Linked DNA regions of Homo sapiens: all the other regions are reported to be linked to region 3. The links are microRNA targets in miRTarBase. Many come from high-throughput screens and were not tested one by one. Region 3 holds a microRNA gene; each other region holds the end of a gene's coding sequence.
The links. The annotated mature microRNA hsa-miR-4731-3p reads CACACAAGUGGCCCCCAACACU and lies in region 3 at 3,247-3,268, opposite strand. An mRNA with a match to its seed (bases 2 to 7 or 8) in the 3' UTR can be bound and repressed. Matches are read on the target gene's strand: a 7mer-m8 pairs with bases 2 to 8, a 7mer-A1 pairs with bases 2 to 7 and ends in A, and an 8mer does both.

Region 1: miRTarBase lists HCN4 as a target of hsa-miR-4731-3p. The part of its 3' UTR that is shown has no 7-base or 8-base seed match.
Region 2: miRTarBase lists ZBTB40 as a target of hsa-miR-4731-3p. Seed matches in the 3' UTR shown: 7mer-m8 at 4,504-4,510 and 7mer-A1 at 7,673-7,679.

Annotation. Positions count from the first base shown.
Region 1 is chr15:73,313,293-73,323,718 of GRCh38, reverse strand. It overlaps HCN4 (hyperpolarization activated cyclic nucleotide gated potassium channel 4), which reads left to right. Exons shown (of 8, transcript NM_005477.3): 8 at 1-3,860. The coding sequence ends at 1,238. Among named protein-coding and RNA genes, the nearest start is that of MIR12135, 19 kb to the right of the region's middle. RefSeq lists a silencer at 4,699-4,748.
Region 2 is chr1:22,523,134-22,533,998 of GRCh38, forward strand. It overlaps ZBTB40 (zinc finger and BTB domain containing 40), which reads left to right. Exons shown (of 18, transcript NM_014870.4): 17 at 1,085-1,311; 18 at 3,069-8,021. The coding sequence ends at 3,263. Among named protein-coding and RNA genes, the nearest start is that of EPHA8, 35 kb to the right of the region's middle.
Region 3 is chr17:15,248,388-15,257,846 of GRCh38, forward strand. It overlaps MIR4731 (microRNA 4731), which reads right to left and starts at 3,309; the gene lies at 3,240-3,309. The region is part of intron 3 of PMP22 (peripheral myelin protein 22); the gene reads right to left.

The DNA.
Region 1 (10,426 bases), not on the chromosome of region 3:
CCATAGCCCTCACCCACCACCCTCGCCTGCCTGCTGCCATCTTCCGCCCTCCCCCAGGATCTGGGCTGGGCAACCTCGGTGCCGGGCAGACGCCAAGGCACCTGAAACGGCTGCAGTCCCTGATCCCTTCTGCGCTGGGCTCCGCCTCGCCCGCCAGCAGCCCGTCCCAGGTGGACACACCGTCTTCATCCTCCTTCCACATCCAACAGCTGGCTGGATTCTCTGCCCCCGCTGGACTGAGCCCACTCCTGCCCTCATCCAGCTCCTCCCCACCCCCCGGGGCCTGTGGCTCCCCCTCGGCTCCCACACCATCAGCTGGCGTAGCCGCCACCACCATAGCCGGGTTTGGCCACTTCCACAAGGCGCTGGGTGGCTCCCTGTCCTCCTCCGACTCTCCCCTGCTCACCCCGCTGCAGCCAGGCGCCCGCTCCCCGCAGGCTGCCCAGCCATCTCCCGCGCCACCCGGGGCCCGGGGAGGCCTGGGACTCCCGGAGCACTTCCTGCCACCCCCACCCTCATCCAGATCCCCGTCATCTAGCCCCGGGCAGCTGGGCCAGCCTCCCGGGGAGTTGTCCCTAGGTCTGGCCACTGGCCCACTGAGCACGCCAGAGACACCCCCACGGCAGCCTGAGCCGCCGTCCCTTGTGGCAGGGGCCTCTGGGGGGGCTTCCCCTGTAGGCTTTACTCCCCGAGGAGGTCTCAGCCCCCCTGGCCACAGCCCAGGCCCCCCAAGAACCTTCCCGAGTGCCCCGCCCCGGGCCTCTGGCTCCCACGGATCCTTGCTCCTGCCACCTGCATCCAGCCCCCCACCACCCCAGGTCCCCCAGCGCCGGGGCACACCCCCGCTCACCCCCGGCCGCCTCACCCAGGACCTCAAGCTCATCTCCGCGTCTCAGCCAGCCCTGCCTCAGGACGGGGCGCAGACTCTCCGCAGAGCCTCCCCGCACTCCTCAGGGGAGTCCATGGCTGCCTTCCCGCTCTTCCCCAGGGCTGGGGGTGGCAGCGGGGGCAGTGGGAGCAGCGGGGGCCTCGGTCCCCCTGGGAGGCCCTATGGTGCCATCCCCGGCCAGCACGTCACTCTGCCTCGGAAGACATCCTCAGGTTCTTTGCCACCCCCTCTGTCTTTGTTTGGGGCAAGAGCCACCTCTTCTGGGGGGCCCCCTCTGACTGCTGGACCCCAGAGGGAACCTGGGGCCAGGCCTGAGCCAGTGCGCTCCAAACTGCCATCCAATCTATGAGCTGGGCCCTTCCTTCCCTCTTCTTTCTTCTTTTCTCTCCCTTCCTTCTTCCTTCAGGTTTAACTGTGATTAGGAGATATACCAATAACAGTAATAATTATTTAAAAAACCACACACACCAGAAAAACAAAAGACAGCAGAAAATAACCAGGTATTCTTAGAGCTATAGATTTTTGGTCACTTGCTTTTATAGACTATTTTAATACTCAGCACTAGAGGGAGGGAGGGGGAGGGAGGAGGGAGCAGGCAGGTCCCAAATGCAAAAGCCAGAGAAAGGCAGATGGGGTCTCCGGGGCTGGGCAGGGGTGGGAGTGGCCAGTGTTGGCGGTTCTTAGAGCAGATGTGTCATTGTGTTCATTTAGAGAAACAGCTGCCATCAGCCCGTTAGCTGTAACTTGGAGCTCCACTCTGCCCCCAGAAAGGGGCTGCCCTGGGGTGTGCCCTGGGGAGCCTCAGAAGCCTGCGACCTTGGGAGAAAAGGGCCAGGGCCCTGAGGGCCTAGCATTTTTTCTACTGTAAACGTAGCAAGATCTGTATATGAATATGTATATGTATATGTATGTAAGATGTGTATATGTATAGCTATGTAGCGCTCTGTAGAGCCATGTAGATAGCCACTCACATGTGCGCACACGTGTGCGGTCTAGTTTAATCCCATGTTGACAGGATGCCCAGGTCACCTTACACCCAGCAACCCGCCTTGGCCCACAGGCTGTGCACTGCATGGTCTAGGGACGTTCTCTCTCCAGTCCTCAGGGAAGAGGACCCCAGGACTTCGCAGCAGGCCCCCTCTCTCCCCATCTCTGGTCTCAAAGCCAGTCCCAGCCTGACCTCTCACCACACGGAAGTGGAAGACTCCCCTTTCCTAGGGCCTCAAGCACACACCGCCACCTCTGGGGCCGTCAGTTTGCCCATCTGTACAGTGGGAGGTGAGCGGAACTTCTGTTTATTGAGTCTGCTCTGTGCCAAGCACTGGTTTCGCACTTTACACACATTAACTCCTTCAGTTTCACAAAGACCATGGGGTGGGTACTTTGATTCTCCCCATTTAGCAGAGGAAGAAACAGTTTTGGGTAATTTTTCCAGAATCATGTAACTAGGAGTGGCAGAGTGGGGACTGATTTGAGGTTCGAGTCCACGCCTCCTTGAGGCCCAAGTCTGTGTTCCTTCCATCAGAAAACTGTGTTGAGGGGGGCTGAGGTAGATGGTCCCCAAGCATGGTACAGAAGGAAGACACCAGATTTTGGCAGCAGTCAGGCCTGGGTTTGAATCCCAGCCCTGCCACTTCTTAGCTGTATGATCTTGGGCAAGTTATCTGACCTTTCTGTCACCTCATTTGTAAAATGGGAATAATTATGGTACTGCCTCACAAGGACCTATGAGGACCAGATGAGAAAAATCTATATGTGAAATGCCCAGCCCAGCGCCTGGCACATACCATGGTAGGTGCTCAATAAAAAATCACATTTCTTCTGCCCCTCATATGCCCAGCCTATTGCTCCAGCAAACTATGTGAGAGCCCAGGGAGCTTTGGCTGAGGGCTCCAAGACTTAAAATCTCAGGACTCAGGAGGTGGCTGGGCCTCCCTAAGGGCCCAAGGAAGGTGTGTGGCCAGAGGTGGGTGGGAGCCAGGCCTTGAGAAGTGGGAAGACTTCAACAGGGAGAGAGGGAGGGAATGGTGGGTGGGATGGAGTGTATGGTGGGGAGATTCCTGAGGTGGATGTGGAGTGGTGGATCAGGGCTTTGGGAGGGGATCCCCAGGCTGAGGGGTCAGAGGGACGGCCTTGGGTGATAGGGTAAGGGATTGTCTGGGCTTAGTCCTGGCAACTAGGAGCCATAAGCAGGTTCCAGATTGCGGGAACGAGAAAGCAGCTCAGATGCCTTTGGAGGCACCATCCTCCCTCCTCCCAGATGGGATCTTGCCAGAGCCAAGGTCAGGGGTCTGCCCCTGCCTATAGGGCCAGAGCAGGTATGGCTGCAATCCCCAAGTAATGAGAAGGGCTGGTCCCACATTATCCATCCAGAACCTTCCATGCTCCAAGCCAGAATGTTGGCAAGATCGGGTTTTGCCTTGAGCTATCCTGGGATGTGAGACAAACCGATTTCTCCATAGATGGGCTGCAGGGAGTGGGAGGCAGTACTCCAGGAGAGAAGTGGGTGAAGGTTCCTGGGATCTTAGGTAAAGACTAGACGCCGCCTAGTACTGGTCTCTACTGTGCTGGCTCAGGAGTTCTGAGAACTGGAAGGACTTAGCCTCAACCTGAGTTCTGCACACACCCCTTCCCCTTAAGGAAGGCAGCTCTGAGAGGCAGCAGGACTTGATCCAAACCCACAGTCTTGTCCTGGAGGCAGCAGGGGTGAAGGTGGAGGGTCCAGGGCCATGAGGAGCCCCCTTGCCATCAGAGCCTGGCCTAACCACCCTCTTCTCTACTTACACACACATGCATTTTATAATAGCTCTGACCCAACCTGGCCACTCTGCAGAGACTGGGACAGACAGGTGCAGGCAATGGGCCCTCCCACACCCAGTCACCTACAAGGAATTTTCAAATCCACTTTTAAAACAGAAACCGGTAAATGCGCCGTATTGTATATTTTATTTAAATAAAAAAAATTCCAGCAGATGCTACCTTCTTCTAGGGGCCAGGGATAGGGGTGGGGGTGAGGTCATTGGGAAATCCTGGAGTCTTGGGAACTCGGGTGTGGAAGGCAGGGGACATGGCCCAGAGGGCACTTGTGTATGTGCAAACCTATGCCTGCAAGAGCATGGAGCTGTGTTCTGTGCATAGAGGTGTGCACGGGGGATGTGCAAGGCCTGGCTATGGACACAGGTGTGCACGTGCTTATGGACTGGTGAGAATCATTGAGGAGGGTGAGAGCGAGTGGGCATGTGTGCTTTGCTAGTGGAGGGGAGAAACGCAGGAGTGGGGGAGGTGTGAGACCCTTCCCACCCCCTACTGCCAGGGCTGGCTGAGGAGGAGGGTGGTGAATGTGCACCTGGGCTCCATCCAGCTAGATAGAGGGGGATGCCGTCTTAGGTAAGCTCTCAGAAGTGGGAGGGTGGCTGGAGACACAAGGTGACTGGGCAAGGGGGAGGGCATCAGAGGGTGGCCGAGGGGTGGGGGAACAGCGCTGGGCTCCTGTGTGGGTTGGTGGGGGCCCGAGGGCAGAGGCAGCATGTGGGGCCTCTGGAAGGAGGCAGGGCACGGACTTCCCACTGCTGTGCCTGTTCGGGGCTAGGCCTGGTCCCCGGGTGACCCCCTTCCCCACCCCTGTCTCCAGAGGGTTCCTCCGGGCCCTGGGACTTCGCGGGGTCGGGCAGAGGCCCCCTCCTGGGGTGGCGACGGGCGACTGGAAAAACCAAGTCCTCGCGGCTCCCGCCGGTATAGGGAGTGCCGTGTCTCCCGCCCTAGGAGGGGAAAGTCCTCGGAAAAGGGCAGGAAACCCAGCCGTTCCCCATCACCGCTTGCCAGGGGATGCTGTTTCCATGGCAACTGGCCGGGGAGTCCCGTTGCTAAGGAGGCAGCTCAGCGGGCCCTGGCGTCCCCATGACAACTGCCCCCTGCGGCCAGGCGTTGGTGCTTCCTTGGGGACCCCCGGAGCGGCAGAGGCAGGGCGCGGCCCTGTGCTGCGATCACCTCCCCCGCGTCTGAATGGCTGAGGCCTGGCCTCTGGGGCTGTGGGGAAGCAGTGGGGACAGGCCCCGCTGAGAGGAAGCCTGTGTGGGTGGGGCATTCGCTGCGGGGTCCTCAGTCACTGTCTCCTCTGTTCCCTGATGCGGGAAGGACAGCTAGTAAGTACCTCCTGTGCGGTAGGCCCTGGGTCTTTCCTTTGCTGTCATCTGCCCAACCACCCCAGAGGTCAGAATTTCCCTCAGTTACAGTGAGCCAAAGGGAAAGGGGCTCAGAGAGGCAGGAATTTGCCAGCCCTGTCAGCTAGAAGAAAGGAGCGGGGCTGCACACCCAGGTGCCGGGGACTCAATCTGGTCTCGTCCCACTAGAGCCTTAGCAAGGGCTGGCGGTAGGAGCTGTCTGTCCCTGGTGCAGGCAACAAAGGGTGTGTTAACTGTAGAGAATTTTAAAAAGACGGTAAAAGTGACTAAATGTCAGTTTGCTTCCTCTGATCACCATGTACCAGCAATTCAGACAGTGTCAGTGATAGAATGCTCCCAGCACAGGGGCAGACAGCTCCTCCACCCCACCATGAGCACCCTATGCGTCAGCCCCAAGGGACACCTGCTGTGCTCGTGCTGCTGGCGCTGTGGGAAGGCCTGAAGGCACTTTTTCTCCCTAGTGGGGCTAAACCCGACTGGGATTTTTAAGGGACAATTGAAAGATGCGTAAGATCCCTACCTGGACTCCACGTCTCTTCCCAGCCGCTACTCCTCACTCTTCCCACCGGAGAGCTGTGTCCCCTCCCTGTCCTCATTTCCTCCTCCACCGCATGGCTCTGACAATTTCTGATGAATTCACCTGCCCACATTGTGAAATCCAGGGCCTCCTTCCCAGCCGGCGTCCTGCTGTCCTCTTAGCAGGGTGTGACCTCCTCCACCAGGCCCTCCTCAGCACATGGGACCCCATCCTCTGCTCACTGCTTCACCTTTCTCAAGCTCAGCCTCAGCTTGAAGGGCTCTTCTTTCTCCCAAAAGGTTGGTGCTCCCTGGGCCTCTGGCCTTGTCCCCCGTCTTCTCACTCCAGATGCACTTCCTGGGGTTAACCTCACCTAGGCCTGTGGCTTCCCCAGCCTGGAAGCAAAAGCTTCCCAGAGTTCCCCTACCCCAATTCAGGCCCCCGCATGCCCTGAGCCTCGGCCTGGGCAGCTGCTCCAGGGTCCCTCATTCTCTTCTGACTGACCACGGCCCTTTTATTCTTTCTTGGGTTTGCAGCTTCCAGTGCACTACAAAGCATGCCTTCTCCTCCACCTGCACCCCTTGTTGATTTTGCTGCTTTAATTTTCTTTCTCTTGAGGGTGGAATATTTCGTACCTACTGAAGAGATACATTATGTAAATCAGATATAAAAAATAATATCAACAGCTATGTACCAATCACTCAGTTTAAGGAATGGAACATAAGGAATGGAGCATAAGGAATACCTTTGAAGGCATCTATGCTGTTGCCCAAGTGTGTCCCTCTCCCTCCCTCCAAGGAAAACCTCTCACCTGAATTTTATCATTACTTTTCATGATACTCTTTCTATAGAAACAAATGACTCTAAAGAATGTATTCAGTTGCACACCAAGGTGGGGAGTGGAGATTGGAAGTAGCTGCCTTTGTGGCAAGAATTTTTATCAATAATATTGTCCAGAATTGCTGATGTATGGTGACAATAAAAATCAGATTTTGGTCAGTTTTATTATTCTTTTCTTTACAAACAGTGGGCCTTTTTATTACCTGCATTAGGGGTGGGCCATACCCACCATCTTCATACACCACTGAATATATTTGTAATTTTAAAACTTTGCATAAATGGTATGCTGCATGCATTCTTTAATAATTTGGGTTTTTTTCATTCAATACTGTAATTTTGAGATCCTGTCAATGCATGGATAGTTCGTTTTCATTGCTGTATAGCATTCCAGTATATGAATCGTCCACCATTTACATATGTGTTCTTCCGAACATAGACATTTCAGTCAGTTTTCATTCCTGTGATTAACAGGACTGCTGCGACAAATGTTCTTGTTTGTGGCTCCTGAAAAACATGGTAAGAGGATCTCTAGGCTCTGTATCTAGGAGTGGAATAACTGACTCACAGAGTAAATTAATCTTCACTTTACAAGATAATGCCAAGCTGTTTTAAGTGGTTCTAACAATTTCCACTCCCACCTGCAGAGTATGAGAATTGCTCTTGCTTCATATTCTTGCCAATAATTGGAATCATCAGGCTTTCTTATTTTTCCTAATCTAGTCATATCTACTTGTGTTTTAATGTGCAAATCCCCAATTACCAGTAAGGTTGGATGCTTGTTCGTATATTCATTTGCTGTTTGTGTTTCCTTTTCTGAGAAATATTTATTCACATATTTTGACCAATTTTCTATTGTCTTTTTATTGATTTGTCAGAATTTTACACATCTTTTTGAAAAACTAAATCCTTTGTCCGCTATATTTATTGCAAATATCTGTTTATGGTTTGTATTTTTGCTTTTTTTGGAGGGGTGTTCCCTGATAAACAGAAGCTTTACACTTTAATGAGGTCAATTTTGGCTATATATATATATATATATTTAATGTCTAGTACTTCCTTAGTGCCTTTTTTGCTTAAGAAACCTATCTTACCCTGATGTTGTAAAGATGTGTTCTATATTCTTTCTAGAAGTGAAGTTTTGCTTTTCACATTTAAGTCCTTACTCTAATTGACTTTGGTGTGGTGTGAAGGCGTAGTTCAATTTCTTTTTTGCCGCATATGGATAACCAATTTTTCCTACATTGTTTCTTGAATGAGGCTTGATTAATATGCAATACAATGTCACGTCTCTATCATATCTGGGTCTGTGTCGAGGCTCTCTATTCTGTACTATTAGCTTGTCTATCCCCATTCAAACAGTCAATTGTCTTAGTTACACTAGCTTTATAAAGTATGTTGATATAGAGTAAGTCCCCCACCTTCTTCTTCTTCTTTTTTTTTTTTCAGATGGAATCTTGCTCTTGTCACCCAGGCTGGAGTGCAATGGTGTGATCTCAGCTCACTGCAACCTCCGCCTCCCAGGTTTAAGCGATTCTCCTACCTCAGCCTCCTGAGTAGCTGGGACTACAGGCACCCACCACCATGCCTGGCTAATTTTTTTGTATTTTTAGTAGAGACGAGTTTTCACCATGTTGGCCAGGCTGGTCTCAAGCTCCTGACCTCAGGTGATCCACCTGCCTCGGCCTCCAAAAGTGCAGGGATTACAGGCATGAGCCACCGTGCCCGGCCCCCCAGCTTTTTCTTAAGGAATGTCTTGGCTACTCCAATCTCTTTGCACTACCACAGACATTTTAGAATCTGTTGAGGTACATGAAGAGTCCAGTGGGCTTCTGATTGAAATTACATTGACATTGTTGCGGAAATGTGTATTCCCATGGATGAACAGGGTATAACTTCCCACATTTGGGTCTTCTTTAATGTCTTTGGTATTAATGAGCACAAACAGCCCCAACAGAAAGAGCCACAAATTTCAAGGTTTAAGACAATAAAGGTTTATTCCAGCTTGGGTAAAGTCCTGTGCAGCCCAGGCAGCATTTTCCTCACTGATACCAACTTGAACTGAACCCCCATTCTCCAAGATCATTGTGGGAGAAGAAGAGACAACTAGATGAGATTCCCGCATCTGAACTACATCTCTCACCAGTGAACATCACTTGCTCTTATATTCCATTGTCACAAGGCCACAGCGTAACTGCAGAGGAGGCTGTGCTGTGTGGGAGATCACCTGCAATCTTTGCTGGGTATTAACTGTCCCTGCCAATTCTTTCAACACAATCTTATCATTTTCTTCATGAAGGTTTTTGCATTTCATTACATTAATTCCTAGTACCTTATATTTTTGTTGCTAGTGCTAATTCTATTTTCTTTCTTTTCTTTTCTTTTCTTTTTTTTTTTTAGATGGAATCTCACTCTGTTGCCTGGGCTGGAGTGCAGTGGCGTGATCTCGGCTCACTGCAACCTCCGCCTCCTGGGTTCCAGCAATTCTCCTGTCTCAGCCTCCTGAGTAGCTGGGACTACAGGTGTACGCCACCACGCCCAGCTAATTTTTGCATTTTTTAGTAGAGACGGGGTTTCACCATATTGGCCAGGCTGGTCTCGAACTCCTGACCTAGTGATCCACCTGCCTCAGCCTCCCAAAGTGCTGGGACTACAGGCTGAGCCACTGAGCTTGACCTCGTATTTTCTTTATTGAGGTATAACTCATATGTATCAAATTCAGCAATTTTATGTGCACAGCTCAATGAGTTTTGACAGACAGTACTACAACTACCTAAACGAGTAAGTCATAGACTCTTTCCATCACTCCCCAGGTTCCTGCATGGCTCTTTGCAGTCAATCCCCTCCTCCCACTCCCGAACCCTGCCAGTCTGCCTTCTGTCACTAAAGTTTTGACTTTTCTAGAATTTCATATCAGTATCATCATAAAGCATATGGTCTGTGTCTGATTTCTCTCCTTTAGCCTAATGTTTCTGATGGCTATGCCATAGTTTGTTTATTCACTCACCCATTCATGAACATGGAACTGTTTCCAGTTTTGGGCTATTAAGAATAAAGCTCCTGTGAAAATTTATGTTCAATTCTTTATCTGGGTGTGGATTTTCTTTTTAGGTAATTATTTAAATTGACAAAGAAAAATTGTGTAAATTTATCATGTACCACGTTTTGAAATATGTATACATTGTGGAATGACTACGTTGAAATAATTAAACTGACATACTTATCACATTACCTCACATACTTTCCATTTTTTGTGGTGAGGACACTTAAAATCTACTTCTGTCATTTTCAAGATGGATGTAGATTTTTGTTTATCTTAATACTCAAGGAATGGCATTGCTGGGCTATTTTTTATATATATATATATATATATTCCTTTTTTTTCTGTTTCTTTGAGATGGAGTCTCACTCTGTTGCTCAGGCTGGAGTGCAGTGCCTCGATCTTGGCTCACTGCAGCCTTTATTTTTAGTAGAGACAGGGTTTTGCTATGTTGGCCAGGCTGGTCTCGAACCCTTGTGATCCACTTGCCTCAGCCTCCCAAAGTGCTTAAATTACAGGAGTGAGCCACCATGCCTGGCCTGATAAATATATTTTTAACTTTATAAGAAACTTCACAAGATTCTTTTCCAAAGCTGGAATACTCTTTTGCATTTCTCCCAGCAATCATATGAGAGTTTCGGTTACTTCATATTCATGCAACACTTGATGTTGTCAGTCTTGATTTTTTACCATTCAAGAGAGTGTGTAATATTAACTCCTGGATTTAATTTGCATTTCCATAATGACTAAAGATACCGAGCATCTTTTCAGGTGTTTACTTGCTATCTGTATATGTTCTTTGGTAAAGTGACTGTTCGAATATTTACTCATTTGTTTTTGCTGAGTCACTTTATTGAATTGTAAGTAATATATTCAGGATATAAGTCCTTTATAAGATATAAGTTTTGCGATTATCATCTCCTAGTTTTTGGCTTGCCTTTTCAGTTTTTCGTTTTTTTTCT
Region 2 (10,865 bases), not on the chromosome of region 3:
GTAGAGACGGGGTTTCATCATGTTAGCCAGGATGGTCTCGATCTCCTGACCTCATGATCCGCCCGCCTCACCCTCCCAAAGTGCTGGGATTACAGGCGTGAGCCACTGCGCCCAGCCAAGATGTACCATTTTTAAGGAACTATTAAAAAAGAAAAACTACTGCCAGTTAAACTGTGCTTTCTTATCACTTAGAATTTCTACGTTATTCTAAGTGCTGTTTTGGACTAATTTGACATAGATTTTTATCATGTCACTCACTCTAGTGTGCATACATACAAAGGAAAACATAAAAAAACTGATTAAGGGAAGAATCCAGCTTCTCAGAGTAGTGTTCAATTCAGATTGTCAACAAGCATGTTTTTCCACACAGTGTTTACTCTGCCATCAAGAACATTGATGATGGAACGCATAATATAAGATTCCATCAAGAATTGAAGGCCATTCGTTTTGGTCTCTTGAGCGTTATGTAAAACTAGTCTACTTTTGATTCCTGCTTTGGGAATATAGCTAACCTTTCATCACTTACTTCCTCCCTTCTAAACCATTTGGTTTCCATGAGTTAAAAACGTGCACCATTCCTGTCTTAGGGAGTTTCTTCCAAGCCGTGGATGCCCATTCTGCAAGTCTTGATGCTGCCACTTTTGATGTTGGTGTGCGCATTGACGATTGCACCTGACTGCCTTAGCCCACAGAAGTCATAAGGTGCCATTGATCCTACTTCAGAGATGTTAAAATGTATTTCTTAGAATTGATGAAATATAGTATCGTCAGCATCTTTATCTGCAGTTGAATGAATAATGGGCTTCTGCAGAGGCAGATTTGGCCTGAATCTGATACTAATGAAACTGTCATCTCAGGGCCCCTCACTTGCATGGACCCTTCCAAGGCTCTGTCCTTGTCATTTTGTATTATTTTTCTTAAGGCCCCCCAGATTGAATAACGTTCGTGTCCCACAAAATGTGGATCCGCCTCCAAGCCTCGATCCTCATTGCTCTTTCCTCTCATGTCTTCCTGCCCTCATTTCTCTCATTTTACCCAGAGAATTTTACCCACAGCCCTCCCCTTCTGTCTCCCTCTCCTCCAGGGTCCCAGCCATTCCGGTGCTTGTACTGTGCTGCTACTTTCCGTTTTCCTGGAGCATTGCAGCACCATGTCACCACGGAGCACTTCAAGCAGTCAGAGACCACCTTCCCCTGTGAGCTCTGTGGGGAACTCTTCACCTCCCAGGCCCAGCTTGACAGTCACCTGGAATCTGAGCACCCAAAGGTGATGAGCACGGAAACCCAGGCCGCAGCCTCACAGATGGCGCAGGTGATTCTGGGGCCATCAGCTACATTAGAATGCTAATGCATGGTTCCTAAGGCTTCTCTAGAGGTGGCTCTGTCATAGTACCCAGAGATACTCTTTGGGGATCTTGTAGAGAGTCTCTCTGGACTTCTTACAAAACAGAACAGAAAATTCTAGTCTCCTGGTGGCCACATGGGAAGTGGCCCTTAGGTAGAGGGAGCCTGGAACAATAATTTCCAAAAGAGGAACAGCTTGGTTCCTCCTCCCAGTGCATACGTCCCTGCCTCCTGAGAAACACCGTGGGGTGTGGTGAGAACTGCGGGAAACCTCGGAGACAGAGGAACACTTTGTTGGGCAGGGACTGCCTGCAGTTGAAGTGCTTGGAGAGCGCCTCTGGGCAGGACACAGTACACACTTGCACACACCTGGGCCTCTCACCTTTACCTGGGCAAAAAAACCACCTCTTCTTGATGCTTCAGGGCTAAGCTTGATCCAGCTTCCCTTTGCTTCCCAGATCCTCTTTTACTCTTCTTCCCATCTTCTCCAGAGAGGGTGGGCAGAAAAGGAAAATAAATTCAGGTCCATCCATCGTCAGTAATTTGTGGGTGGGTTGGAGAGGAACCATAAACTGATTGAGGTTTTGGTCTGTTAGACTGTCCCGCTGTCCAGTTCCAGATCAGTCATTTATAAACCAGGTTCTTACAGGCCTCTGGGGAACAGAGGGGAAGTCAGGTAGGCAGGACTCCCGCCAACACTCTGCTGTCATATCAACCAAAGGTGCTCTGCTTTTATCTTTTTTGTATATTATGGTTCTTGATAATATGTCCTTTGGGGAAAAGGTGGGGCTGGGGCGTCCATTTCTAAAAGAAAAAGAAAGAAAAGCAGTTTGAAAACTACTATCCTGGATCATTGTTGATTGAACATCACAGTTGATCTCTTCTCTCCTGTAGCACGGAGAAGTAGCTGGGCTTGGCTTCCTCACTTGTTCCTGCTCTCTGCTCTTCACTGATTCTCAAGAGCAAGGTGGCTGTGGCCTCTAGTTTAAAAATATCAAGGGCATCTAGCTCTTCTGGGATCTATGGGTTAGAAACATCAACTGGGAGGCTTAGGCGGGAATTGGATATGCCTAACCACAGACTCATTCTCTCTCAGTTGGAAAGGTGGTCTCTAACAGATTATGCAGATTTGGAAGGGACATAGGTGGGCTGTGGAGGAGAGAAGGGGGCACTGGCCCCGCCAGGCTGGTGAGCTGAATGAATGCGTGGAGTCACAGTTCATCCAGTCTTCCTCCTAAGCTCGGTCACTGTGTGGCCTCCTGGGAAGGCTGTGAGCCTGCGAGAGGTCCAGAGAGGCTGCCCCGGGCCCACCTGGGCCTGTGGTGGATCAATCCCATTCCCATGTTCCAGGCATGAGACCAGCTGGCTTCAGTGGCATTCCTCTCACATGGCACTCACCTCTGCAGTGTCATCCCAAGACAGGAAAGCCCAGTGTGAAAAACAGAGCCAGTGTTCGCTGGTGTATAATCATAGAGTCCGGGCGCCCCGAGATGGCGTACTGAGCAAAATTATAGCAATTTAGTGCACAGTTATTTAAATTGTTTGCTGGCCTTCTCTTTTGCATCGCCAGTGGGTTAGACTTGCCTCTTCCCATTAGGCACATGTAAGTGCTCTCCTCAGGTGAAAACATAAATATCATCATTACAGCATGAGATGAAAACCATGTAAATCAGGGAGCCAACTGTGAACACTGCCCAGAGCAGCCTCACGGTCTTTCTCTTTCAGGTGATCCAAACCCCAGAGCCGGTGGCCCCGACAGAGCAGGTGATCACTTTGGAGGAGACCCAGCTTGCCGGGTCGCAGGTGTTTGTGACGTTGCCAGATTCTCAGGCATCTCAGGCCAGCTCTGAGCTCGTGGCGGTGACTGTGGAGGACTTGCTGGATGGCACAGTGACGCTGATCTGTGGTGAGGCCAAATGAGCAGCCTTTCATCCGGCAGAGCCTTCCTGCGTTTGCAGCAGAGAGGAGGCCCCACAGCTTGCCCTTTGCCCTCCATCCCTGGCTGTCCTGAGTGGTGAGCATCTTAGCTTAGCACCAACCAACACAGTCTCACCTAGAAAACAGATGGAAGCTTCGTTGTTCTCATAGAACCAACAGCATCTGAGCCCTCAACACCAACAGCACCATCCTCTGTAGCAGACAGGCCTCCCTCCCCACAGGCCCGCTGCTGCGGCCTCTATGACACTGTCCATCCCCAAGTGACATGTGGCTTCAGAAGTAGAGTCTGAAAGAGCAGTGGGATGGGAGCTGGTGACCAGGGTACCCCAGGAGGCATGATGTGCCGACAGCGCTCAGTGGGCAGAATGGCAGTTAGATATGGGACTTGGCCCACAGTGGGGGCTGCAAATGCTGCCACTGCCTCTGGCCATTTAAAGTGAGAGGGGCACCAACAGACAATTCGGGGACCTTAGGCCCCTTCCTGAGGCACACTTGGCCCCTTCCTCGGTCCTATCATCCTACCCTCTGCTGGGGTTCCCCCTCCACCCAGTGGCCACGCCCAGCACCCTATTGATGGCTATAGGACAGGTAGCCCTCATTTCCATGCCTGATAACCCCTTGTCAGTTGTCAGCTCTTCCCAAAACAAAGCTCTGGAGTTTCTGCTGGAAGTGTTTAATGTGAGGCATCAGCTGCTAGACAGTGTCTGCCTTTCCAGGACATTCTTCTTGGTATTCCTTACCTGAAGCCTGGTTCCCACAGCTCTTCCGTGTCATCTTCATCCCCTTCCTTTAATCAAAGGCTGAAATCTCTGCCTGACCTGGCAGCCTGGCTCCCTCTGGGTCATATGGTGCAGACTGTGACCAGCACCAGGCAGGCAGTCCTGTCTGCGTGTGGAGGAGCAGCCGTGACTGCCCGTGGCTCTGCTGCCGCCCACTCCCTGCCTTGTGAGTGGCCTGCTGCCTCACCTCCCGCAGGCCGCCACACTTATTGCAGGTCAGTGATCCTTTGGAGTTTGAATTTCACAAAGCTTTTTTTATCTTCAGTTCCTAAAATATAATCTGATAATTAATGGTTTGTGGAATCCATTATGAAGTGCAATTAGATAGATGTAGGTTCCTGCCGTTTGGAGAGAATGACTAGCATTTATCTTCTTTTCCTTCCATGCCAAAGGTTGGAGTCTGCTGGTGCGGTGTTTACACACCAGGCAGGGCTGTCTGCCACCTTGTGTGGCTTGACCCCCTGTGGAGGGGAGTGCCTGGTTGGATCCCACACTGGCAGAGATGGGGCCACCCCTTCCTTCCAGGCACATCTCACATTGCCATGTACAGAGGCAGGAGTCACGTTTGGTCACCATGGAAGCTTTTATTGCTCCCACATGGTCAGGTCTCACCCTGCTTGAAGCGCAGAAGGCACAGCCTTACTGACCAGCACGCCCACTGACTGGCATCTGCCGGCTTTGTGCAGGCAGCCCCGACGGTTTCCACAGCGAGCGCCAGCTCCGGCCAGCCTGGGACAGCTCATCCCAGCCGACTACACCTGCTTCTGGTCCTGTCCACATTTTGATACGCAGATCACTTGAGCTTGTCAATTAGGGTTCTGCCATTCTGAAATAAATGAAGTTTCTAAAGCAGAGTCGGCCTCAGAAGCCAAAAACTGACCAGAAGATGGTGCTCAAACCTTTAAGACTTCATCTCCATGTGAAGGGCTCACTGTTTCTACCAAGGCTGTGCCTGTATTAAGGCTTTTCCGTCCTGGGAACTGTCAGTCTGGGAGAGCTCTTGATCTGCAGGTGGCAAAATGGCACTGAATATCCCCTTGGCAGCAGAGAAAACCCACTGAAAGATCGTAGAGTGGCACATGCTTACAGGGCATTGGTGCCAAGTCCAGTGGATGAGAATCCAGCCCCTCACAAGCTGTGGGATGGGGCTTGGGAGTTGCAGTGAATGTCATTAAAATTTCTTCCAAAACAAAACTAGAAATAATTGCTGAGGGCTTATAGGGAAGTGATTTAAAAAGAAAAAACAAACAACAACAAAAAAAACTCTTCGGAATAAAGAGGGCTGTAAATTTTGAATTCCAGTGTCAGATCCTTTCAAGCACTGAGAAATTCTTTCTCAGGTTTCTTTTTTTGGGGGAGACAGGGTCTTGCTCTGTCACCCAGACTGGAACACAGTGGCACGATCTTGGCTCACTGCAACCTCTGCGGGCTCACGCAATCCTCCTGCCACAGCTTCCCAAGTAGCTGGGACCACAGGCGTGAGCCACCACTGCTGGCCAGTTTTTGTATTTTTTTTTTTTTTTGTAGAGACAGGGTCTCGCCATGTTGCCCAGGCTGGTTTAAAACTCCTGAGCTCAAGCAGTTCTCCCACCTGGGCCTCCCAAAGTGCTAGGATTACAGACATGAGCCACTACGCCTGGCCAGGTTTCTGTTGGAGACCCAGATTGTGACAAGACATTTGTTTTCTTCGGAATCACCAGATTTGCAGCTTACTGTGCCGAGAGTGGACTGGCTGCCGGGGCCCATCAGATGCCCTCTGGCCCATGGCACACTCAGCAGAAGGCACAAACCCAGTGCTGGTTCTCATCAAGAAAGAGGGGAAGGCCCTTCCCGAGTTTACTGTCTGCTCTGAGTGGGCTCCGCACTGGCTGACTGATTTTATAGTCTTGCTCTCTAGAGAAGCCCAGGCATGGATCTTATAGGAAAACTTTCTGACTCTGCTTGGCCATTTTATCCTTTTCTCCTACTTCTGCCCAAGAGACCTGAATTGCTGCCATAGAGGACAGTGTTTGTGTGGTCTCCTGAGTCCACATCGCTCGCTTCCATGGGGTCCCGGTGTTGTTTTTGCCTCGTTCCCCATAGGCTGCTGCCCTTATGGCCTCTGGACTGAACTCTGGGGCCTTTGGGGTGGTGTGAAGGAGTCTGTGGGCTTCTTGGAACACATGGATCTGTTCGGTGGGTCCCCAGACCTCTGCTCCCAGAGCTCATGGCCCAGGTGGTGAGGAGGGAAAGGCAGTCAGATTCCAGGCTGGAGTGTGATTCTGTGGGAATACTGGGGTCAGTTATGGAACAGGACTTGCCCATCATAGGTAAGTGAGACAGCAAATAGATGATTCAAGAGCAAGGATTACTGCGGGAAGGTGAGACTCCTACTGTCCACGCGCATGAGCAGAACCTGGAACCAGAGGGGCAGGGACCAGGGGTCTTTACTCATTTATTTTATGGGTAAAGAGACATGAAGAGACAGCCTCTCTCTTCTGTCTCAGAAGCTCTGTGTTTGGGAAACTTTGAGCCCAGTGAGTAGCAGGGTCTGCAGTGTGAGTACCAGGTTTCCCTGGCAATCCAGGTCTCCTCTGAGGAAGCATTCTGACTTCCCACTGACCACGGAAGGCATGTCAGCTTCATGCCTCGGGCTAGAGTTCTGATAATCGGGGCTGAGGGGTGAAAAGAAATCCAGTCAGACAGACAGTGGGGAGACAGGTCCCTGCCCTTTATTTGCGGGATCAATCAGGGACTCCCAGAAAGGAAGGAGAATGGTGAGAAGGGCCCTAAGAGTTCGTCTCTCACCTGGGGGCTGGTGACGTGGTCACCACAAGCTGAAGACAGGCTAATGGGGTGGCGGGTGTGTGTTTAAACCTCACGTGCCTGGAAGCTGCACATTGACCAAAGGAGGGAGGGAAGTGCTAACCATGTATAGAGTGGGCAGGCGGTTCCAGGGAGACAAGCAGCATGTTATTAAATTGGGCCTAGGCAGTTGGACGATAATGGAGAAAAAGCAGGGATGCTATAATGAGTCCTCCCCAAGGGTGAGTTCAGCACCCCAGCCCTGTTCTGCTTGTATCCCAGTGATACTTGGGAGGTAGGAAGAAAATGGGAGTAAGAGAACAATTTGGGGCTGAAGGGAGTGTCAGAGGCACGTTGATCCTTGTTTTGTTGTCATGGAAACTTCGGGGCTGGTGGGACTTAGGCCAAAAGCTCAGAGGCACAGCCAAAATTTAGAAGCTTGCTACTCCTACGACTCGGCCTATAAGGAAGAGAGAAGCTGTCTGTACTTTGGGGACTACATTGCTGAAGGAAAAAAATCACTCCCTGGCTAATTAAGATTGCTTCCAAATTGGGGGAATGTGTGTCATTTCCTTTACCAAGGCCAGTCATCCCTGCTTCCACCCATGGTCAGGACAGTCAGCCACTACGTGATGCTGTATAAATTGGATTACAAACCATATTCTTGTTCAGCTTGCACTAATCTATATAAATAAAATATGTACTTTGAAAAAAATTAGGCTACATGAGTTTCAAATGGACTGTGATGTTATAGACCTGCTTTCTCTTTGGTTCTGGGCCAGTGTCAGACGGGGACAGGGGTGATAGGCCTGGTGTCCTAGGGGCCATTTGTGTACCTTGAGGCCGTGTTAACATGGCCTGGGGGAAAGAAAGCTCTCCTGTCACTTGGAGTCTCATTCCTAAACCCTCCTTCCCAGGGAGCAAGTGTGGGGCAGGGTTTCAGAGCACAGGCTTTGGTGTCCAGCCTGGGTACATCCAGCTGTCCCGCTGTCTAACTGACATTGTGTGAGATGCTTACTCTCTCTGAGCTCCCTCCTCCTGGCTCCCAACTTTATTATAAAATGGGGAAAATGATTGTGCTTGCCCTACAGAATTGTAGTATGAATTAAAAGTCTGGATTTAATGTATTTAATATAGAAAATTTTAGCTTTTATTAATAAAAGTTTTTGGCATACAAGTCAACTATTCCCTGCATTCTCTGGCACTAAAGAGAATGTTCATTCCTGTATCTTTATGTAGTCTTTTTCCTCTCTGAAGCCTTAAGGGATCCTTATAACACCCACTTTTCATTTATCTCTTGAATCTCAACTGCCCCGAAAGTACAAAGTGCTGAGCAGATAGCTGTAAAATAAACTAAACCTTTCTTGGTGAACAGCTGAAAATGTCACATTGCTGGCAGCCAACAAGGAAACAAGAGCAGGAGACCCGGATGGGATGTACATGAGTTCTGCAGGAAGCACCCAGTGTTTAAGACGAGGGGAGGGGCATCAGATCCCGCAGCCCTGACGCTGTAGAGAGCAGAGGAGTTGGGGAGGTTCTATGCTCACTCCTCCTGGGACAGTTCTGGAGGAGCACAGATGGACCCTTGTTCAGAGTCCGCAAGTGTGTTTAGGAAGGAATGCTGCCCTGCCTAAGTGCTGTCTTTGGAGAGCAGGGCTGGAGCTGCCTATGTCATATTTTGGGCAGTAGTCCTGAGAGTGTCCCAGCCAGCTGCAGTGGGTAATTGTAACATACAGTTGGGCCCCAGCCACATTTGAAGGTATGCAGAGGTGAAGTGCTGCTGCAGGTCGGGTGGGATTGAGCAGAGCTAGGAAGTGGGCCGAGGGGTTCCCTCAGTGATCTTCTGGGCCAAGGTGGCTGGCTGGAAGGAGCTGAGCAGCATGGTGGAAAAGACATGGGCTTGGGAGCTTCCTAGCTCCACGTCTTACTAGACAGATGACCTTGGGCGAGTTTTTCCTGACAGTGACTATGAGAAGAAAGTTAACATTTGTAAAATATCTGACAGAGTATAGACGCTTCGTAGATGATGGCTGTTCGTGTTTATAATATTTTAGAAGGGCCTGGAGGAAGAGCTGGGGCAGAGGACAGCTGGAAAGGAAGAGCTGGGGCGGAGGACAGCTGGAAAGGAGGTACCTAATGTGTCCTTAGATAACAGGGTCTGAAACCCAGTGCAAGGGTCTCCAAAACCAGGGTAAGAGGAGGCATAAACCCAGAGACCCCAGCCCAGGCCAGAGTGAACAGTGGTACGAGGGGAACAGGATCTCCCGGGTTGGAACAGGGGCTCTCAGCTCTTTGGCACTGCAGCAGAGGGGTCGCATCTGAGTAAAGGCAGAAACCTGGGAATGTTGGGTGGGGACACATCCAGTGAGAGCAAAGGAAATGGAAAAACTAAGTCTGCAGTGATTTTTGGCTTCTCTGCCTCTTTAGTGTTCACTGTCTATCCTTTTCTCCATGGGCTTATGCTCAGGATATGTTTGGAGTGAAAGGTTAAAGGGGCTCTGGCACCATGCAGAGGTGTCCTAGACCAGGGTCTTTACTCTTCATTAAGAGATGAAGAGGTTATAAGGACGTGGACATAGAAACCAAGTTCATGTTCTCGAGAATGTTCTGCAGGCTTTTCTTCGTGCATCTGTCCTGCCTTTTGGCCTTTCACCAGGGCAGGTGTAGGTCCCATGCCCACCAAGACCTCTGTATCTCCTCCGCATACTCAGACTGGGCAGTACTCAGTGGATGCTTAGCAGATGCTGCCGACTGCTGGAGACAGGGACTCTGACCTTGGGCTCTCTCTTCCGAGGGGTAGAGGAGCTGCTTCCTATTCTGCAGCTCTGCACCACATGTTCAGTATGAGCTGTTTCTAGCCAGTCGTGGAATACGCTATTATTCCATCTACTCTCCATCCACCTCATGTCTGCAACCTTGTGAGGCAGAGCCAGCACTTGGCGGGGTTGCGTGTGCTGCTAGAATCCTGAGCTCCATCGTGGAGAAAGAACTTCCCCCAGCTTTCCCTGTCACTCCCTAAATCTGTATTCTGCGATGTCCCAAATCCATCCACTACACGATTGAAACCCTAGGTATGCAGTTGTGTATTTGGTGCCTTAATCCTCACACAGCTTCATCTCATTTGAGATTCTAACCAGTATGAGGACAGGGACCACATCCTATTTACTGCCCTCGTTTCTCTGAGAGTTAGGAGTGCTGTGTTGGGCACACAGAGGCTCTGCCAGAACCAAGTGGTACCCCTCTTGCTTACCTTCATTTCTCGGCTCAGGGAGAACCCAACTTCCACATTTTACTCTGGTCATTGAGGCTGTACCCCAAGTTACCCGTGGGCTGGTCTGTCAGAACATCCTCCTCTCTTTGTCCTCTGAGGAGAGATTAGCAGAAGGCTAAGAGCAGCCAGCCAGGCCCCACCACTCCCAGCTGCTCTGATCAAACACCATTCCTGCCGCTTCTTCTAGCTCTGGCTCCCCCGGCGCAGGCCAGAAACAGCTGATCAAACACATCAGGACAAGGTCAGTCCAGGGACCCACGGTCCCCTCCAGGGGAGATTTCACAGCCCTGCCATCAGGAGGGTCTGATAAAAATGGGCAGGGGGCGGGGAAGGGGGCCTGTGGGGCTGGCACAGGACCAAACAGCTTTTCATTTTGTTTAAGGTTGAAACCCCTGTGCTCCACACAGGGTCCACACCAAGCCAGCATTTCCAGAAAGGCAGAGCTGGAGCTGAGGAGACGGGAGCTGTGTGTGCACGTATGAGTATGTGGGGGTGAGAGAGATGTCAAGAGCACATGTGGGTTTGGGAGCATGGGATTATTAGATTGTCACAGGATGACTTAAGATCCTCCCCCGCTAAACTGCGACCCCTTCAAGGGCAAGGACTGTGCATTATCCTCGTTCTCTCTCTTACATGCACATGTGTGTACCCAGCAGTTAGCCTGGCACATCAGGTGCCTGATTGCACAGGTATGTTAGACCTGAAGTTCTGGGACTCGGTGAGGTCCTGTTACCGGGCTAAAATGGTGCC
Region 3 (9,459 bases):
CAAGGTATTCCAGCTAACTTTGATACAGTTATTCAATGAACTGCATTCCTAATTAAGAGGCTTTGTGGCAGGCACAGAGCTAGTTTGTCAGGGTCTAGTTCTGCACTTTGACATCCATATTCTTGCTCTGCTAGTGAGTTTTTGGACTTCTAAAGGGAATAACACGCAGCCACTGAGGTACCTGAGGTTACTGGATAATAGTAAGCTGTCTGAGGCTTTTTTATACCCTTGTTGGAAAACTCTAGAAACAGGGAAACAGAGTAGGCTTTGTTTCTCTAAGAATTGCTCTTGGAAGACTTACTCCACCAGATACAAAAGAAAAAGGAGGGGAGTGCATTGTACGATGAAGGATATCAATCTCCCTCCTTGGTAATTCACAATGTACCATGAATGATCAAAGCCTGCTTAACTTTCAAAACTTAGTGTCTTTCAAACGGATTTATCAGGAGACTTGTTTTTGTTTTTGTTTTTTAAAAGAAGAGCTCACTTAAAAACACTGAGTTTGGCCATAGAAAATGACGGGAAAGGCAGTTGCAATTGCAGTCATGAACTGCATCAGTGGAGAATGAACAGGGAATAATTCGCTTAGTTTTAAGATCTTCAGGTTTAGGAGGAATTCTCCCCATAGAAATAATAGAGTTCTCCTCCTTCTTTCCCCTAAAGTATGAAAAAAGAACACGCATTATGGAAATGAAGAGCTAGAACAAAAGAGCTGCTACCCCCACCAGTGACAGTAAACCAATGCCCGTTTACAAGCACAAAACCCATCTCTGCTCCCTCTGCCTACTGCAATTCTACCCCATTGCCAAGGCCCAGCTCAGAGGCCACCTCCTTTTAGGATCCCTCGATGCCACAATTACATCCTGAACATGAACAGAGGCTCCGGGACCCATGCAATGTGCAGGTCCTACCTCAACTTCAGGTCCTACCTCAATGCCTGCTCTGCTTTTAGGAAACCAGGGTACCTGCCCCAGGTTACCTAATTTGTTACAGGCAGACCCGGTGCAGAAAAACAAGGATTCCCTGATGCCCAGACTACTAGTTTTTCCACTACAACACACTGGGGGTGCAGAGAAGTCAATGATATGCTTGCAATCTAATGAATTAAATTATTCTACCACCATTCTTCAGACTTAGAATCCACAAAAACTAGAGAGGGTGGAAGGAGAATGGTGTGGCAAAGAGAGAGCGGCTTCCCTTATTCTCTGCTCATCAGCCTGCCAAGCCAAACCACTGACCAAACTTCAGAAGGGCAAGAAGAGGCCCTGCTTATGCAGCTGGGACCAGCACCAGAGAAGCCACTGAAAGAAGGAAGGAAAGAAAAACTGCAATCGTCAACTGTTTGAAGAGTCATCGTGTAGAGGAGAGACGGGGGTCACCCTGCAGTCATTGTCCAGGAGGCACTGTGGAGATTTAAATTCTTTAAGGACGTGCCAAGCAACTTGATAAAACCCAAGTCCAGCACATCAGGCATGAATGAAGGCAACTAGAAGTGAATGGACAAAAGAGGGGCAGTGTTGGGTTTAACAAGGTAATTTCTTTTTTTGAGACGGAGTCTCACTCTGTCGCTCAGGCTGGCGTGCAGTGGTGCGATCTCGGCTCACTGCAAGCTCCGCCTCCCGGGTTCACGCCATTCTCCTGCCTCAGCCTCCCGAGTAGCTGGGACTACAGGCACCGGCCACCACGCCCGGCTAATTTTGTTTTGTATTTTTAGTAGAGACAGGGTTTCACCGTGTTAGCCAGGATGGTCTCAATCTCCTGACCTTGTAATCCGCCCGCCTCAGCCTCCCAAAGTGCTGGGATTATAGGCGTGAGCCACCGCGCCCAGCCGAGGTAATTTCTTAAGTGACAATATCTCCTGGCATTCCTCCCTCATCACTGGCTGTTCATCCCCAGTCTCCTCTCCTTCCTGTACCCTCGTTAACCCCTGGCATGCCCAAGACTTAGCTCTGAACCCTGTTCCCCTTTTCTGCCTTCTGCTCTCAACTCCTCCCCAAGTAACTGTATTCAGCACCACAACATTGAATACCCTTCGGTATAGAGGAATGACTCTTGACTTTGAATTTCCAGCCCAGACCTCTCCCCTAAGCCAAAGACTTCTAAATTGAAGTGATTTGCTGACCTCTCTGATGGTCAAAATATAAATCCTGATTTCTACACCTTCCCGCAAATCTTCTGTTCCTCCTCCAGTCTCCCCATCTCAGTCCAAGATTCAGTTACACACCAGTTGCTCAAGCCCAAAACGTAGAGTCATCTAGAATCATTCTTCCCTAACTCCCTACATCTAACCCATCAGCAAACCCTGTCATGAGACCTGTTTTCTTCTCTACTTCCCCTCCCTAGCTAAGCCACCAGCTACCTCCTAGAGTTCTTGTGAGGATTAAATGCATTGCTTTTCAAAGAATGCCTGGCACTTACGTGAGCTGTTTGTATTCTTAACATCATTGTCATTGTCATCATTGTCATCTCAGTGTCATCATCATGTCCAGTCTGGACTATGACCACAAACTCCTCACTGGTCCCCAGTTTCCACTCTTGCCTCTCCCCAGAATTCATTCTCAACAGCCAGAATGAGCTTACAAAACATGAATCAAATCATGACACTCTTCTGCTTAAAACCCTTCAATGATGTCCCAACTGTCCTTCTCAGTACCACAGCCTGTGAGGCACCAGCGATCCTGCTCCCATCCCTCTCTCCCGCATTCCCCACCCTCCTTTCTTCAGCTAACTCAGGGCCTTGGTTCTTCCCTTTACCTCCTAGAATTTTCTTCCCATGGTTCTTCCTATAACTGGTCCTTCCCTGTCTTCTAAATCTCAGACCACATCACTATGGAAGGAAGAGGCCTTCCCTGAGCAGCTCATTCCTCCAGTGATGACTTTCCATTGGATCACCCTATTTGTTTCCTGCAGAGCATGTTCCACTACCCATAGTGATGCATGTATTGTGTATTGCCTGTTTCCTCCAACTCCTTGTGAGCTGCACAATGGCAGGGACCTGCTCTTTCTTGTTCATCTCTGTGCACCCCATTTCTAGAACAGTGCCCAGTACATAGGACAGGCTCAATAGAGTTGAAGAACACATGAATGGATCTCACTATTAGCTCTTCAAAAACAAAAGAGGCTCTCTTGAAGGTAATAAGTTCCCCATCAGTGGTAGGATGAACATGTGGTAGGCATATTGCAGAGGGGTCTGTGGCTCGATGGGATAGGAAGGAGGGATGGGCCAGATGACTCCGGGTCCCTGCCAGTGTTGGGGGCCACTTGTGTGTGGATGACTGCACACTCATGTGGCCCCCAGCACTGGCAGGGACCTGACCACAGTCAGAAGGCTTCATCCCAGACAGCCTTCTCTCGGGCACCAAAGATCAACATCCACAACCTCAGGCTGCACCATGGCCAGTCCCTGCTCCTGAAATGCAAGGGATGTTTTCTTGGTGCTGGTGAAATCTTGGGGATACAATTGAAGTTTTTTTAAAGCAAAGACTATAGATTCCAGGTCATACAGTTCAGACACAGGTTCAAACAAACATTTCATACTAATTCCTGGGTATTGGCATCAGAGAAACCCTAAGGGTTGAAATCCTGGCATGTTGACAACACATTCCGTCCTCTGTACCTCCCTTGTACCACCAGGGTCTCAGCATCTCATAAGAGCCTGTAAAATCCAGAGCCATTCCTTGGGTAGAGATTATGGGTTGGCTGAGGGAGCCACGAAGATTTTAAAATGTAAAACATGAACCCATAAATGCAGAAGGTCTCCCGTGTTTTCTAAAATCTGGCCAAAAGCTGAGCCACAGACAAGGAAATTGTCTGGTGTCCTTGCCAAAATGACAGTGTCACCAAATTGATAAACAAGTCTGGGATCGTTTTGAAGACAGCGATGATAGGAGACCACCAAGGGCTCAGGTTGGGGGCTGCTGAGACTGGCAAGATTTAGTTTCTCTAATTTTCAACCCAAAGCATTGATCTAATTCCTCACACAACCTATTGATAGTCATGAGTTTGCTGTTGCTGCTGCTGCTGCTGCTGCTGCTGCTGCTGCTGCTGTTTAAATGGAAAAGAAGAGTAGTAAGTGGTCATCTTCTCAGCGTCTGGTGCTGGTCCCGCCCACACACTGTGGCAGAGCAGACCCACCTGTTGTCACTGGGAAATGAGGGGCTGCAGGTACTGCCCTTAGACAATGGAGGTGGCCAAGGACGTTTGGGGACAGATTACAGGAAAGCTCAACAATTCCCTTCATGCTTTGGTGTTGAGCACTGGCCTCCTTTTTAAAAACAAAAGTGATTCAAAAAGGGGCACATTTTTTGTGCCTAACACCTCAGCATGAAAAAGTTTATCAACTACCTTTTCTTCTGAGACAAGAGAGGACTTTGTGAGCAGGGACAGGCCCTGAGAGACAGATTTTACTGAAGACAAACTGCCTGGGTCCTGCCTCATCACTGAAGCTGATGAAGACCAGCCAGGGGCCAGGGCAAGCCAGGACTGTGCCCTTCTAGCTCTTGGGCTCCCAAGCCGCCTGTGGCTTAATTCCAGTATTCTGACCCATTCTGCTACACGTCAGGTCCACACAAATTAAACAAAAAGCAGGGGAATGCTTGTGAGAACTTGGACTTGATATTTGGATCTTGGAGACTTCAAAACAAAAAGCACTGGTTCATTCAATAGCAGGGCAAATGTTTTGCCTGAATCCTTTGGGTCAGTAGATTTTAAACTCACCCATAGGGTCTTGGGGAGGAGGCTTGGCACACCCCTCCCCCTCACCAGAGCCTTCCAGATTGTATGAGTTTGCAAACTAAAGCTCCAGGAACTGGCCTCATTCAAAGCGACGCCATGGACCCTGCGTGCCATGCCCCAGGGCTCCACTCTCTTAATCAAGGCAGAGGGAACCTACTTACTACTCAAAACCAATTTTCTAACATAAAATGTTCACAGTTATTTTCTGATTGTGAAAATAAAAGATCTCAATGAGGAAAACAGGTAAGGCAGCAAAAGAAAGAAAACAGCCAAAGTGATAAGAATCCCGTCACCCAAAATAATCACTGAAAATATACCGATGCATTTCTACCTTGTACAATTTCTGATATATTCTGCCTTATAGAGGCTTCTGGACTGTCACTCCAACTTGGAATCAAATGGACCACTGAGAAACCCGTGGAAGACAGCAGGTCTAAGGAAATCACAAAGATTAGAAATGCATCCATGTGCACCCAACTCCTTCCTAGTGGGGGTGGGGGGTACCTTTGAGATGGTCTGTGATTCTACTTACCCCTCACTCTCTGTTCCCACTAGTCTGCCCTGCCCTCTGTCCCTCAACTACGCCAAGCTCCTTCCCTCCCCAGCGATCTTGCACTTGACGGTCCTTCTGTATGGAACCTCCCCGAGATGTTCATATGGCTGGCTCCTGGCCACTCCTCAAGGAGACCTTCCTTCACCACTGCAATCCCTCTTTATCCCATTACCCTGTCTTATATAGTTCTTACCATTGCCCCCAAATTCTCCATGTTTACTGACTGGTTTGTCCAGTAAAACATAAGCTCTTGTTCACTCTTGTAACCTTAGCACCTGCAATAGTCTCTGGTACACGAGAGTTGTTCAAGAAATAGTCCTGCATGAAAGATCAGAAGAGAAATGGAGAGACTCCCGAAGTGGGAAGTTCACATTTCAGGACGTGAGAAAACGCTGAAATTCCAAGATGAGGGGAAGAGAGATGGGAGGTGAGACTTAACAGAAGCAGGAGTGGATCATTCAGGTAGATTCCGATGGGCCTTGTTAAAGATTTTCATCTGAAGATTAAGACCAATGAACGGCCTCTGAAAGGTTTCAAAATGAGGAGTGATATAATTAGGTTTGTGCTTTTTTAAATATCAGCCTGGATTCCATATGAAAAATGAGTCACAGAGGAGCAAGAAAGGGTTCAGGCAAACTAGTTAGGAGGCTGCCCTGGCGCCTCTGACAAACGAGGAAGCAGCGTGACCACAGGTGGGCAACAGGCATTGGAACAATGGGGTGGCCTGAGGGACCCGTGACAATGCTGAGAAGAGAAAGAAGGAAACGCGTCAAGTCAAGGCAGACTCTAGATGTTTGGCTTGCTGGCTGGTGAAGCAGCATTCACTAAAATACTAGAAAGTGACAGAGGGGTTGAATTGGCAGAGGAAGATAAGGACTGTCTCTGGCCTAGTGACTTGGGGGCCTCTCTTAGATATCCCAAGGGAAGTGGCCAGGAGACAGCTGGATAAACAGGTCTGGGATTCAGAAGAGAGGTCTGGACTCATTAAATAATAATAAGATGGCCAGGCATGGTGGCTCACGCTTGTAATCTCAGCACTTTGGGAGGCTGAGGCAGGTGGATCACCTGAGGTCGGGAGTTCGAGACCAGCCTGACCAACATGGAGAAAGCCCGTCTCTACTAAAAATACAAAAAATTAGCCAAGCGTGGTGGCGCATGCCTGTAATCCCAGCTACCCGGGAGGCTGAGGCAGGAGAATTGCTTGAACCCGGGAAGCGGAGGTTGCAGTGAGCCAAGATGGCGCCACTGAACTCCAGCCTGGGCAACAAGAGTGAAACTCTGTCTCAATAATAATAATAAGACTTACTTATACCTGGAGAGGTGGTAGAAATAGAGAGAGAGAAGCCTCAACAGGTCCTAAAGTTTCTGAGAAGAGCCCATGTGAGAATGGTGGGGTGGCTGACAGAGCCCAGGATGCAGCAGAGATGGACTCTTTGAAGAATGCTGAAATAACTGGGACTTATGGAACTGCATAGGGCCCAACTGAGCTATTGCAAAAGAGTATGATTGGGTATGGGAGGGGATGGTCAAACCCTCAAGGAAAGTATTCCACACCAGGCTTACAGAGAGGTATTTGCTGCCAGGTTTCTATGATTTGAAAAGCCATGCTTCCCCCAAGGCCGAATGACTATATTTCTCAGCCTCTCTTGTAAATAGGTGTAGGTGTGACCATGTCACATTTCATTAAAAGAAAAGGAGATTCATTCTTCCCCACCTCCTTTCTCCACCCTACTGCTTGAATCATGGATGAGATGGCTGGAGCTCTAGCAGCCTTTTGTTTCCTGAAGATGACAGCCAAACCCAAGAGATGGCAAAGAAATGAGCTAGAAAGTGTCTGCATCTCTGACAATTTCATGGAACCTCCATACCTCTCTCAGGCTACCTACTTCCAGACTTCTTTGAAAAGAGAGAAAAATAAATGATCTTACTTAAGCCCCTATCATTTGAAGATGTTCTCTTATACACAATCAATCCTAATCCTAACCAGAACACTAGCCAACCAGTCTACCCCATCCCCTGCCTTGTTCTACCCTTACCTTAGGTCACAGGGAATATTCTCCTCCCCGTTGCCTGTATTGACTTAAATCCTGCCCATCCTTTGGAGGATGGATCAGATTCTACCTCCCACCAGAGATTTCCCATCCGCTTCCTCCCTGAACTCAGACGCTGTCTGCCTGCCTCCCTTTGGGCACCTGGCCTGCTCTGCCTTCCAAGGGAGTGATTCACCCTTCCATATCTATCTCCTGACTCTTCGACCAGGCTCGGGACCATCAAGGCAAGGCCCATGCATTCCAGATCCTTGTATTCCCTGGGCCGGAGAGGCACTGGATACAATATCATAACGAATATCCCCACACTAAGCCTCTCTTACCTCTGCCCACACGAGGCAGATAAGGAGGGGGTGCCAGAAAGTATACAAACACATTTAGAAAAACGAGAAGGCAGGCGGAGTCAAAGTCAGTTAGTTAAAAATCTAAAACTATTTCTAATATTAAGATGTAGCCTGGGGGCAAGATCTGGTGTGTCTCTTTCAAACTACACAACCTAGATGTTAGACTGCCTCATGGCACGATGCCAGGAGGCCCCATTCATGTAGAAAACAACATGAGTGGCAACCCCCAGAGAGAGGTGAAGTGTCATGGTCATGCACCAGAAAAATGAGTCCTTTCAGAAAAAAATACCAAGTCACATGGCGCAGTGGCTCACACCTCTAATCCCAGCACTTTGGGAGGTGAGGTGGGTGGATCTCCTGAGGTCAGGAGTTCGAGACCAGCCTGCCCAACATGATGAAACCCCTCTCTACTAAAAATACAAAAATTAGCCAGGCGTGGTGTTGGGCGCCTATAATCCCAGCTACTCGGGAGGCTGAGGCAGGAAAATCGCTTGAACCCAGGAGGTGGAGGTTGTAGTCAGCCGAGATTGCACCACTATTTATTTTTTCACACTTGCAACATATTCTTCACAAATCGATGTCAATAACAAATTACTTTTGATTACTTAACAAGTATTTTTTTTCAAATATACTTTCTAAGAGCAAATACAGACAAGTTAAATGGTTCGCAATGAGCATAGTTCATTTGTAAAGACAGTATAATGTTTTAAAAAGTACACATTTTTTTCAGCTTATTGTCTGCAGCCACAATTGTTAAACTCAATCAAAGAGGCCCTGGAGGATTCGCCACTTAAGGCTGAAGTCGTAGCAAGTGCTGCCACGTTGGGGAAGATAGCGGCAGAGATAACCACTACTGGGGAAGTGTAAATGGAAATTTCAAATTTAGATTAAGCCTGAGTGGCGTGAAAACAAACCCAGCATGTTCAGGTGCAGTGTCCAGATGTTTTCAAAATGCCCTGATTGTGAGAGCTGAGAAGGGAGATGTGGAAAACAGACACTCTGGGGTCCTCACGGAAAGCAACGAGGCAGATTTGAAACCCACACTAAGGAGGCATTGTAAATGAACTCAAGAACATGAGCTTGGCACAGAAGGAACAAGTTGAGAGATAAGAAGTTTCCTGATTAAAATAACCCTAGTGCCTCTTTGAGATCTGCTTCTAGCACCAACTGACAGCTATTTCCAACGGCAGAAGACACCAAATGTCAATCTGTAACATGCTACAGGTCAATATTGCTTTCTTTCCTGCAGATGGTTTAAGCACAACTTAGCAACTCCTCTGCCGCCTCGTTTCTGCTGAAACTTCGCCGGGTTTTAACACGCCTGCCAAAACTGCCCCCTTCCGGGCCCAAGAGTCCAGGATTCTGTGCCAAGCCGCGTGGCCAGATGCCACTTGGGGATGGCGCCTGTGAGCACCAAAGCCTGCCCTTTTCGGGCTGAGTCACTACTTGTAACCACCAGGTGTCAGTAGCGAGTACGGAGACTCCCATCCGGAGTGCTCCGGGAACTTCAGCCAGACCCTAAAGGGGGAGAAACCGGATGCTGTGGCTTTGGGGACAAGCAGTGCTACGGTCACATTCTCAGGCACTCATGAGTATTTCATTTACTCAGTTGCCAACTCACCATGCAAACCCACCACGTAATTTCTGGGATGGCTTTAATTCAATGCCTTTCACACACTCAGAGACAAGATTAAGCACTGTTCTCACTCCAATAGGACTGGGACCTTTTCTCTGCTCCCTCCCCAACCCAGAAGGTAAAAACATAAAGCAGGGTTTTCTA